Linked DNA regions of Homo sapiens: region 2 is linked to region 1. Evidence: fine-mapped expression QTL. A gene starts in region 1. The other region holds a variant in brackets. All regions are shown on one strand. Distances are between the middles of the regions.

What was found.
Region 2: its variant is fine-mapped to the expression of PSPN in whole blood (INTERVAL, PIP above 0.99).

The regions. Positions count from the first base shown.
Region 1 is chr19:6,373,331-6,378,798 of GRCh38, forward strand. PSPN (persephin) reads right to left here and starts at 2,603. Exons shown (of 2, transcript NM_004158.5): 1 at 2,372-2,603; 2 at 1,818-2,286. The coding sequence starts at 2,519. The coding sequence ends at 1,964. It overlaps ALKBH7 (alkB homolog 7), which reads left to right. Exons shown (of 4, transcript NM_032306.4): 2 at 873-1,046; 3 at 1,135-1,259; 4 at 1,481-1,920. The coding sequence ends at 1,643. RefSeq lists an enhancer at 1-118 and a silencer at 1-187.
Region 2 is chr19:6,455,961-6,461,212 of GRCh38, forward strand. SLC25A23 (solute carrier family 25 member 23) reads right to left here and starts at 3,832. Exons shown (of 10, transcript NM_024103.3): 1 at 3,513-3,832; 2 at 2,238-2,364; 3 at 1,543-1,630; 4 at 460-571. The coding sequence starts at 3,668. RefSeq lists silencers at 3,584-3,643, 3,694-3,833, 4,344-4,523. The variant G/A (reference allele first, on the strand shown) is at 2,131.

The DNA.
Region 1 (5,468 bases):
TCTGGGGGCGGGACAGGAGGCGAGCGTAGGGACGGGGCGTGGCCACGCTGGGGGCGGGGACAGTGGGGACCAGTGCTGGGATGGGGCGTGGCCACGCTTGGGGGCGGTTACAGCGCAGTCGAGCGTGGGGGTGGGGCCAGGGAGTCGGGTGTAGGGTTGGGGTGCGATTACGCTGCTAGCAGTTACAGTGCAGAAGAACGTGGCGGCTGGGATTGGGGCGTGGTCAGGTCGTCGAGCGCATGGATGGGGCGGGGCCAAGCTTGGGGCGGGGTCCGTGGAGTCAAGCGCCGGGATGGGTTGGGGCCATGCTGTGGGGGGGACGGGGAAGTCGAGGTTTAGAGAGGGCAGAACCACGCTGGGGGCGGAGATAGGGGAGACACATGCTGGGATGGGGCAGGGCCTTTTTGGGGTCGGTAGCTATTGCAGGGATTTGGGAGCTGGGCTATGGTGGGGGCTGGGCTGAAACTCTGGCTGTGGGAGGGGCGGGACCTGGGGGATGAGGACCTTGGGGTCAGGGAGAGCACTTTTGCGACCTGGGACCAAGGTTAGGGGCGGAAACGGATGTGGAGCCAGATGATGTTGAGAGACAGAGACAGGACACTTGGGTGGGGTCAAGTTGTAGGGAGATTCAGCCAATTGAATGCTGGGGCCGGGCCAGCATTGGGGACCTGGAATTGTAGCCTCAGGGTGAGTACTAAGGACTGAGGTCACACCTAGGTAGGGCCATAGTTGAGGGGCTAGGGGAGTTTGAGTTGAGGGCAGGGTCAAGAGTCACATAGGGAAACCAGCCCCTTGCCGTTTTCTGCCCCTCCTTGCCTCAGTTTCCTTGTTCCCTCTGGGAGCTCCCAGGCTTAACCGAGCTCTCTGTGCAGGCCATCCACGGCTTCCGAGAGACAGAGAAGTCGCGCTGGTCAGAAGCCAGCCGGGCCATCCTGCAGCGCGTGCAGGCGGCCGCCTTTGGCCCCGGCCAGACCCTGCTCTCCTCCGTGCACGTGCTGGACCTGGAAGCCCGCGGCTACATCAAGCCCCACGTGGACAGCATCAAGGTGGGCAGAGGACGGTGCCTTGGCACTCCCAGCCAGGGGGTAGGCAGGCCCGGTTAGATCCTGACCCATCCCCACGCCTCTTTTGCAGTTCTGCGGGGCCACCATCGCCGGCCTGTCTCTCCTGTCTCCCAGCGTTATGCGGCTGGTGCACACCCAGGAGCCGGGGGAGTGGCTGGAACTCTTGCTGGAGCCGGGCTCCCTCTACATCCTTAGGTACCTCCATCCAGGCAGCACCCACCCCTCCAAGAATGTGCCATCCGCCCACCCTGTGCCCTGGGTACTTTCCCTCAATCCAGCCCTCCCCGAAGACGCCTTTACCCCAGGGTCTGTGTGGGAGGCAGCAGGGGGCTGGAATCCAGGAGGCTGGAATCCAGGTCTGCCTGGAGCAGGGGCTGCCCTCCTTGCACCCAGTCACAGCCTGTTTCTTCCTGCAGGGGCTCAGCCCGTTATGACTTCTCCCATGAGATCCTTCGGGATGAAGAGTCCTTCTTTGGGGAACGCCGGATTCCCCGGGGCCGGCGCATCTCCGTGATCTGCCGCTCCCTCCCTGAGGGCATGGGGCCAGGGGAGTCTGGACAGCCGCCCCCAGCCTGCTGACCCCCAGCTTTCTACAGACACCAGATTTGTGAATAAAGTTGGGGAATGGACAGCCTAACTGGGACATTGCAGTGGCTGCTTGCTGGGGCCGGGATTTGCAGGGGAACCCAGGATGGCACTGGCCCATAGGGAGCTCCAGGTGTGGCTGGCTGGACACATGGTCAAAGTCACAAGGCCGGGAGAGTGGTGTCCTTTATTGCACTCACTGCTGGTCGCCCCAGCCCACTCCCCTCCTCGTTGTCTCTGCATCCAGGTCTCCAATAAATAAGTCAGCCGAGCTCCCCCAGCACTGCAGCTTCTGGGTGCCAGGCCGGGCACCCTCAGCCACCACAGCCGCAGGCAGCCGCCGAGAGCTGGGGCAGCCGCTGCCAGCGGTGGCGGTCATCGAGGAAGGCCACGTCGGTGTAGCGAGTGGGCCGGCAGCAGGGCCCGCCGTGGGCTCGGCCCTGGCCCTGCAGCCGGGCCAGCGCCAGGCCATGCTGGGTGCGGGCACCACGGGGGCAGCTGCCGGCGCAGTAGCGGAAGATGACCTTCTCCTCTGAGGCGTAGCCCAGGCCTAGCTCTGCCACGGACAGGGTCAGGCTCCACAGCTGGCATGGACCAGACAGGGCTCGGCGCAGGCGGGCAAGGGGGCGGTGGGTGCCTGTGGGAGGGAAGGGCGCTGACAGTGAGCAGGGTCAGGGCTGGGGAAAGTTGGGAAGTCACAGAGGGTCCCTGGAAGTCCTTACCCAGCCAGGTCCCTCCAGCCTTTGCCACCTGTTCAGACGAGAACTCTCCATCGGCCACGGGAACCCCACGGGCATCGGGGCCCCAGCCCTGTCCCAGCTGCAGGGACAGGAGCAGCAGGGAGCCCAGCAGGAACTTCCCTACGGCCATTGTGACGGGCAGGTCCTGAGAGTGGGAGCTGTGCCCCAAATTTATGCCCTGCCTGGGCTGGGAGCTAACCTCTTCACTGCCGGCCCCTGCAGCCAGGAGGCCCCACGTCTGCACCAGCCCATCTCCTGCACCCTCGAATCCAGGCATCTGCTCCTTCTGCCCCACACCCCACCCTTCTAAGAGTTAAGGGCTCACCCCCAGCCTACCCCACCCCGACATTCCACACAGCCATTTCCGACGCCCCAGACACCCCCTGATTTACGAGTGCTGTGCTGGCGGCCAGGGCAGGCAACTGGTGTTCCCCCGACCTGCTGCCTGGAGTGGAAGTCAGGGGGCTTCATGGGACCCCGGTGGGGTCCCTCCCCACTAAGTCAGGGTGCTGGGGCTCAGGAGCCCCCACGTGTATCATGTGCCAGGTGGAGCATATGTGAGTGCTGGGAAAGGTGGCTTGGCAGGGGACTGAGTCCACGGGAACCCTCCATGGTGGCTCCCGCCTGGAGGATTAGGACATCATGCCCCTGTCTCCGGGCCTGGCTGAGCCAGCATCAAAACAGGAAAAGGGAGAGGCCTGGGGACAGCCAAGGGTGGGGACACAAGGGGACAGGGACGCCTGTCTCGGGAAGGCCAACCTGAGACCCCTATAACTGCAGCCCCATCCTGGGATCTGAGCATGTCAGAGCCCCCGGGGCGATGGAGGCTGTCCAGGTCATGGTAACGTCTAGCACGATGCAGACAGATAAGGGCTCTCGAGGCTTCCATACCCAGCCCCGTGTGAGCCCAGTCCCCTCACCGGTACAGGGGAGCTCCTCAGAACCCCTCCTACTCGGCTTGGTGAGGAAAGAGATGGGCACTTAGAGTGTAAGGCAGTGCCCGTAGCTTCGAATGCAAAAACAAGCAAACAGCTTGTGATTGTCCGAAGGGGTGCTTGACTCTAAGCACCCACAAGATTGGGGAAAATCAGAAAACCCTCACACACAACCCGTGTGACCCAGGTGCACCCTGTGCTGTTGGTGGGGGTGTAAATTGCTAGCAGCTCTTTGGATGAGCAGCTGCTACTGGGGAATTGTAAATTACACCCTCTGCCCCAGGAGCCCTGTTTGCGGGGTTCCTCCCACACAGGCAAGTGAAACAGCCAGCACAGGGACATCTGATGCCTTCTTCATATTAGGAAAGTCTGGAAGTGGCCTCAACTCCATCCGTGAGGGATTGCTTCGATGATTATGTTGTGGTTTTTCTTACTGAAGTGCTTATTGAGATGATAATTTTCCGATGGAAAGAAAAGCCTGGGCTTGGCGTGGTGGCTCATGCCTCGGGAGGCTGAGGCGGGTGGATTACCTGAGGTCAGGAGTTTGAGACCAGCTTGACCAACATGGTGAAATCCATCTCTATTAAAAATACAAAAATTAGCTGGGCATGGTGGTGGGCGCCTGTAATCCCAGCTACTCGGGAGGCTGAGGCAGGAGAATTGCTTGAACCTGAGAGGTGGAGGTTGCAGTGAGCTGAGATTGTGCCATTGCACTCAAACCTGGGCGACAGAGCGATACTGTCTCAAAAAAGCCTGGCGGGGCCCAGTGGCTCATGCCTATAATCCCAGCACTTTGGGAGGGTGAGGTGGGAGGATCACTTGAGGTCGGGAGTTTGAGACCAGCCAGGCCAACATGGTGAATCCCTGTCTCTAACGAAAATACAAAAATTAGGCGAGGCACAGTGGCTCACGCCTGTAATCCCAGCACTTTGGGAGGCCGAGGTGGGCAGATCACCTGAGGTCAGTTCAAGACCAGCCTGGTCAACATGGTGAAACTCCGTCTCTATTAAAAAATTAGCTGGGTGTAGTCCCAGCTACTCGGGAGGCTGAGGCAGGAGAATCGCTTGGAACCCAGGAGGCAGAGGCTGCAGTGAGCCAAGATTGCACCACTGCACTCCAGCCTGGGCAGCAGCATGAAACTCCGTCTCAGAAACCCAAAAAACAAATTAGCTGGACCGTGGTGGGGCGTGCCTGTCATCCCAGCTACTCAGGAGACTGAGGTAGAATTGCTTGAACCCAGGAGGCGGAGGCTGCAGTGAGCGGAGATCATGTCACTGCACTCCAGCCTGGGCGACAGAGCGAGACCCCATCTCAAAAAAAAAAAAAAAAAAGCCTGAAGTCACCCAGAATTAAGCAACGGTCCTGGTATTTGAACCCAGGTCCTCCGTGAATGCAAAACCCCTGCTCCTCACCACAGGGCCTCACCACCCAGCCTCCTTACATGAAGGCCCAGGCAGTGGGGGTGGCTGGGGCGAAACTGCTGAGGCAGCGGCTCCCTCCAGAGCTGCCTCCCTGCTGCCCAAGAAGGCCTGGTGGGAGAAGGGGGAGGGAGGTTGGCCTGAACTGGGACATTCCGAGGAATTAGCCAGACATCTCAGGCATTCCTGCTCGGCAGCCAAGGGCTGCAGAACTGGGTGGGGAAGACTTCCACCTGCAAGTTTCCAACCACCGGCAAGACAGAAGGGATTGCCCGGAAGATGGGTTCAAAAGTAGTGGCTGCAGGCAAATTCCATTTCCAGCCATATTAATGTTTCCAGCCACATTTTCCAGTTCCATTTCCAGGAACTGGAAAAGCCCTCCCTTACAGAATGCCTGGCAACGCCAGATCAAATATATGCATGACCGAGCTTGTAAGAAGGGAGAAGCCCCCCGAAACATCACCGGGAACCTCAAACATAGGGACCCACAATCGGGGCAGTGGGGGGGGTTGGCTTTGGTGGCCACCTGCAAGCTGAGAACCACACACAAAATGGGCTGGGGCTGGCGCTCCTGGGTAGCTAGCGAAAGCCAAGGCTGAACCATCTGGAAGGACTGCCTGCAAAGTAGGCCACCCCGGATTCCCACAGAGCCCCCAGCTGGCCATGAGCATCCAATCCCAAATCACAAGAAAATCTATCACTAAGGGGAGTCAGAAGAAACAAAAG
Region 2 (5,252 bases), 83 kb after region 1:
CGCCCACTTCGGCCTCCCAAAGTGCTGGGATTTTAGGTGTGAGCCACTGCGCCTGGCCAAGACCGTGGTTTTTGAACGATTCTGTTCAGCCGTAGAATCTTTTATCCAGGCAGAGAACCCAGCAGAAGAGAGCTGTGTGGGTGGAAGGTGGGAGGCCTTGTACCCCATCTGGTGAGCTCTTTCTTCCCTGTACCCGCAACCCCCACACGCTGTCCCCAGAGGCCCCGATGTAAGTCTCAAGGGCTGCGCTTCAATCAGACAGCAGAGATGTCCCAAATGGGACCCTTGAACCCTAAGTGGAGGAAGAGAGGAACAGACCCTCATCCGTCAGCTGCTGCCAGTGCCTTCTCCTTCTGGAAAGTCCTGGTCCAGCCCATCCAAGCCCTGGGGAGATCGGAGCAAGGCCCCCCTGGGGAAGAGGGCACAGCCTTCAGCTGGGGAAAGCCACCCCCACCTCACCGTGGAATGCTTCCAGAAATACAGCACGTCCTCCACATTTTCCAGCGAATGCAACAGGAAGTGGTCGCGCCATTCTTGCCAGTCAATGGTCATTGTGCCGTCTCGGTCCATGCTGGGGGGAAGAAAGGGGGTGGAGGAGGACAGGTTCAGTGCCTGGGGGTGGGCTAGGCTGGGGTGAAGTTCTGCTAGGTTTTGCAGTTTGGGAGGTTCAAGTCCTCATATCAACCCTATTAGAGATGTAGCAAATATTACCATCATTTTCTTTTTTCTTTTTTTTTGAGACGGAGTCTTGCTCTGTTGCCCAGGCTAGAGAGCAATGGTGCGATCTCAGCTCACTGCAACCTCTGCCTCCTGGGTTCAAGAGATTCTCCTGCCTCAGCCTCCCATGTAGCTGGGACTACAGGTGCACACCACCATGCCCAGCAAATTTTTGTATTTTTAGTAGAGACAGGGTTTCACCATATTGGCCAGGATGGTCTCCATCTCTTGACCTCGTGATCCACCTGCCTCGGCCTTCCAAAGTGGCAGGATTGCAGGCGTGAGCCACCATAGCCAGCTGTATTACCCTCATTTTGTAGAGGGGGAAACGGGCTAAGAGAGGCAACTGGTCCCAGATCTGTCTGGCTTCAATTTGAATTTTTCTTTCTTTTTTTTTTTTTTTTTCCAGAAGGAGTCTCACTCCGTCACCCTGGTTAGAGTGTCCTGGCCTGATCTTGGCTCACTGCAACCTCCACCTCTTGGGTTTAAGGGATTCCCGTGCCTCAGCCTCCCCAAGTAGCTGGAATTACAGGCATGCACCACCACGCCTGGCCAATGTTTGTATTTTTAGTAGAGATGGGGTTTTACCATGTTGGCCAGGCTGGTCCCCAACTCCTGACCTCAGGTGATCCACCTGCCTCAGCCTCCCAAAGTGCTGGGGTTACAGATGTGAGCCACTGCGCCTGGCCAGATCTGTCTGACTTCAAAGCCCCAACCTCTCAGCTGTATCCTCCTTGGGACTGGGTCTGGAGCCCAGAAGACAGAGATGGCCAAGGGGTCACTGTGTCCTGAGTTACTTTGGATTCCAGACCCCCAGCGACTCACCTGTGCAAAATTTTCTCAGCCTGCTCCAGCGAGATGGAAATGCCCAGAGCTCGGAAACTCTGTTGGATCTCAGAGACATCAATGTGACCTGGGGAGGGGGCCGGAGGTGGGGAAGGATGTGCGTGTGAGGACACCTGGGGAACCCCAGGACCAAGGATCAGAACAGCTTGGAATGGAGGTGGTCTAGCAAGATCAGGGGCTCCAGAAACCTAGGAGGAGGTTTGCAGTAGGGCTGTGGGGGGACCCCTGACTCACTGGGGTCAGAGAGGTGGAACTGGGAAATACTGGGGGGGCTTCTCTGTTCTGTAAATGAATGAAGGAATCCAGGGGTAATTGTAGGGGTCTCTATGCCATGGGGGATTGAGAGGCAATATCCACAACCCAGATGCTGCTATGAGGGGATCTCTGTCCCACAGGGGACCCAGGAACAGCATAGGGTATCTTTGCCCCATAGAAAAATCTAAGGGTAATTATCGGGGTTCTGCCCCAGTAGGGAAAGGAGGTGGGATGGGCTGGCTGGGCCTCGAACCACCTAGCTAGGGGGTGAGGAGTGCTCCTGAAATAGCCTATGAGTCATCGGGGAGAAGC[G/A]GCCCTCCCCCTCTCCTCCTAGCGCTGCCAGTTCTAACCCCACTGATGTCTCTAGGGCCCCCACAGCCCTATCCCTTGGGGCCTGCAGGCAGGTCGCCCGACCTTACCATCCTGGTTCCGGTCAAGACTGTGAAACATGAGCAGCAGACGCTGTTCCCGCTCCTGCAGATAGCGGGAAAATTCCTCCAGGTCGAGCCCGCCATCTGGGTCAGCATCACCCTCAGAGGAGATACCCTGACAGAGGGAAAGGGGATAGAGGTGGCTCCAGGAACCTGCTCCTGATCTGGAGGGGACGCATGTCACCTTATGCCTTAGGAACCCAGAGCCCCCAGCGCCTTGAGGAAGGGGATAGAAGACGTCACCCCACTTCTCCCTCAGTCAGCTAACTTCTCAGCCAGATCCCTACAGCCACCACAGGTCTGTGCGGTGGGTGTGAGTGGTCTAGTTTTCCTGGTGAGCAAACTGAGGCTCTGCAAGGTCAAGTCACCAGTTCAAGGTCACAGAACCAGGAAATGGTAACCTCAGTTCTCATCTGTAAAGCCTGTCCTTCCAGCTGTCTCTTGTTTTTAGTTTTTGTTATTTTTTTAGGTATCTCATTCCTGTTGAACCCAGCTGCCTCTTAAAAAACCCTGTCCACATGGGGGACCCAGGGGTTCCCTTTGGAGGAAGCCCTGGGCGATGTGGGGCAGGAGAGAACCAAGCGGAGTGGCTGAGGCCTTGGTTTTTCCCATTTGGGAAGTGGGAGGTTGGACTGCTCTCAGGGTTGCTGTGGTTCTCTTAGAGCGATCTGGGGCTACAGGTGTGGGAAGGACCTGCAAAGTGGAGGTGGGGGCAGCGGGAGGAAAGTCTTGTTATAGGTGCATTCCCAGCTGCGGGTGACCGCAGACAGGATTGGGTCCCTGGCTGGGGCAGCCCGGGACAGTGAGCCAGGCCCGTGAACGGCCCATGAAAGGGCAGGCCAGGGAATGTAAACACAGGGATCGGGGCAGCTGCAGGCCAGGGCAGTAGGTGCCCAGAGGATGGAGGGTGTGTCTCCTGGAGGTGAGAGCAGGGCACGTCATGGGCTGTGCAGTCTGGAGGAGGGTGTGTCCCGGGCAGTGGGCAGGAAAGCGCCCCCATCTCTTCCCAGGCAGACGCCCCCTGCCCCGCAGCAGGGGGATCGGGTGTTGGCCGCGGAACTGCAGGCTTGGGGCCTCGGCGTCCCTGTCTTGAGCGATCCCGTTAGGCCAAACACGAGTGGGTAGGGGGAACGAGACAGAGACACAGGTTCTGGAGTCCAGCCACAGGTAGTCCCTGGTGGCTCCGGCCGCCCAGTTCAGGGGCTTGGGTAACCGGGAGCGGGCGGGGCCGGGAGGGGAGGAGGTCCCTGGGGGTGGGGGTACCTGTTGGGCGCCGGGGTCTGGGTTGCCCCCGCCCAGCCTGGCCAGCCCCTGGCGCAACTCGTGCACGTCCACGCGGCCATCCTTGTTACTGTCCAGCTCCTCGAACAGGCGACCCCAGCGCTGCCGCCGCTCCGCGTCGCCCGGGCTCCCCCGCATGGCGCCCGCCCGGGGGGGAGGGGAGGCCCGGCAGCGGCGGCCTCAGTGGGGGCTTCGCGGCTCCCCCTCCCCCCCCGGGACCCCGCAGGGTCAGCTCCCGCGGCCGCCGGCTCCGCAGCCTCCGCGCAGTCCGCTCGGCTCTGGCACTTGCGGGAGGTGGTGACGGCTAGCCGTCGCCGCCCGCGCCAGAACTTGCGTCTCCTCCCCCGACCTGCATTGGGGGGAGGGGACCGAGGGCGGAGCTGGGGGCGTGGGGAGGGAATGTCTGGGATGGTCTGGTATTGCACAGCCGAGGAACACCAGAGTTCCTTCTGGGAAGACGGGCTAGGGAGCTCAGTGGTCTCAGGTCTGGTTTCAGAGTTCCGCCTCTGCGTGCCTCAGTTTACCCTTTCCCCCTTTGCCCAAGGGGGCAAGGTAGAGCGCTGTCGGGGATTGGGTTTCATAATCCCCTTCCACTTGACCTCCCCGCCACACCCACTAATCTTCAGGAACTCAAGTTCTCGCTTTTCCCAGACGCACGCAAGAACCGTGCACCATCTCGCTCGCTCTCTGCCCGCCCGCGCCTTACACCTTCCCCGCTCGGCCGCAGAAACAGAAGATCCAGGAGCGATGCTCTCCCACTGTCCCTTCTTCCCGCCCGCGCGCTTCCTTTCTCGGTTCCCACTCTGACTGGGAAACAGAAAATCAACGCGCGGCGCGGCTGCAAAGTCGGTTTCCTATTGGTCAGCGCCTCCTGGGCTGAGCCCGCCCGCCCCGCCTCTTCTCCCACCTAGGCGGGGCCTCCCCGCAGACCCCCGACTGCCTCCAGCCCGCAGTCCCACCGCCTGCCAGGAGATCTTAAAGGGGCCGCGGCCGCAATCAGACGCTGAGCGGCGTGGGGAGGGGGTGGCTCAGTGACCCGGGCGCGGGGTTGAGGATCCCAGTGGTCGAGCGCTGGAGGCAGGGCCCCAGCCTGTCGCACTCGCTGCACCTGCGGAATGTCCCTACTGCTAGTTTCGGGCGCAGTTTCTCGATCCACCATTAGGGGGAAGGGAGCCCAGACCACTTGACAGCGAATACTCGATAACAAATCTCACTTTGATTCAGTGCTTTGCACATGCCAGGGCTTTTACTCACCTCTCGAGTCGTCTTTGCCAAAACCCTATAAGGTAGGTGGTACTGGCGTTCGCACTTTGCAGATAAGGAAGCGGAGGTTAAGTCATTCTCCCCAGTCCTGATGACCACTAAGGGGCAAAACAGGGTTTAAAGAGATCTGGGATCCTTAACCATCACTCTATACCCTAGAAAGAATTAATTATCTTTTTTTTTTTTTTTTTTTTGAAACGGAGTTTCGCTGTTGTTGCTCAGGCTGGAGTGCAATGGCGCGATCTCGGCTCACTGCAACCTCCGCCTCCCGGATTCAAACGATTCTTTTGCCTCAGCCTCCCGAGTAGCTGGGATTACAGGCGCCCGCCACCAAACCCAGCTAATTTTTGTATTTTTAGTGGAGACGGGGTTTCACCATGTTGGCCAGGCTGGTCTCGAACTCCTGACCTCGTGATCCGCCCGCCTCAGCCTCCCAAAGTGCTGGGATTATAGGCGTGA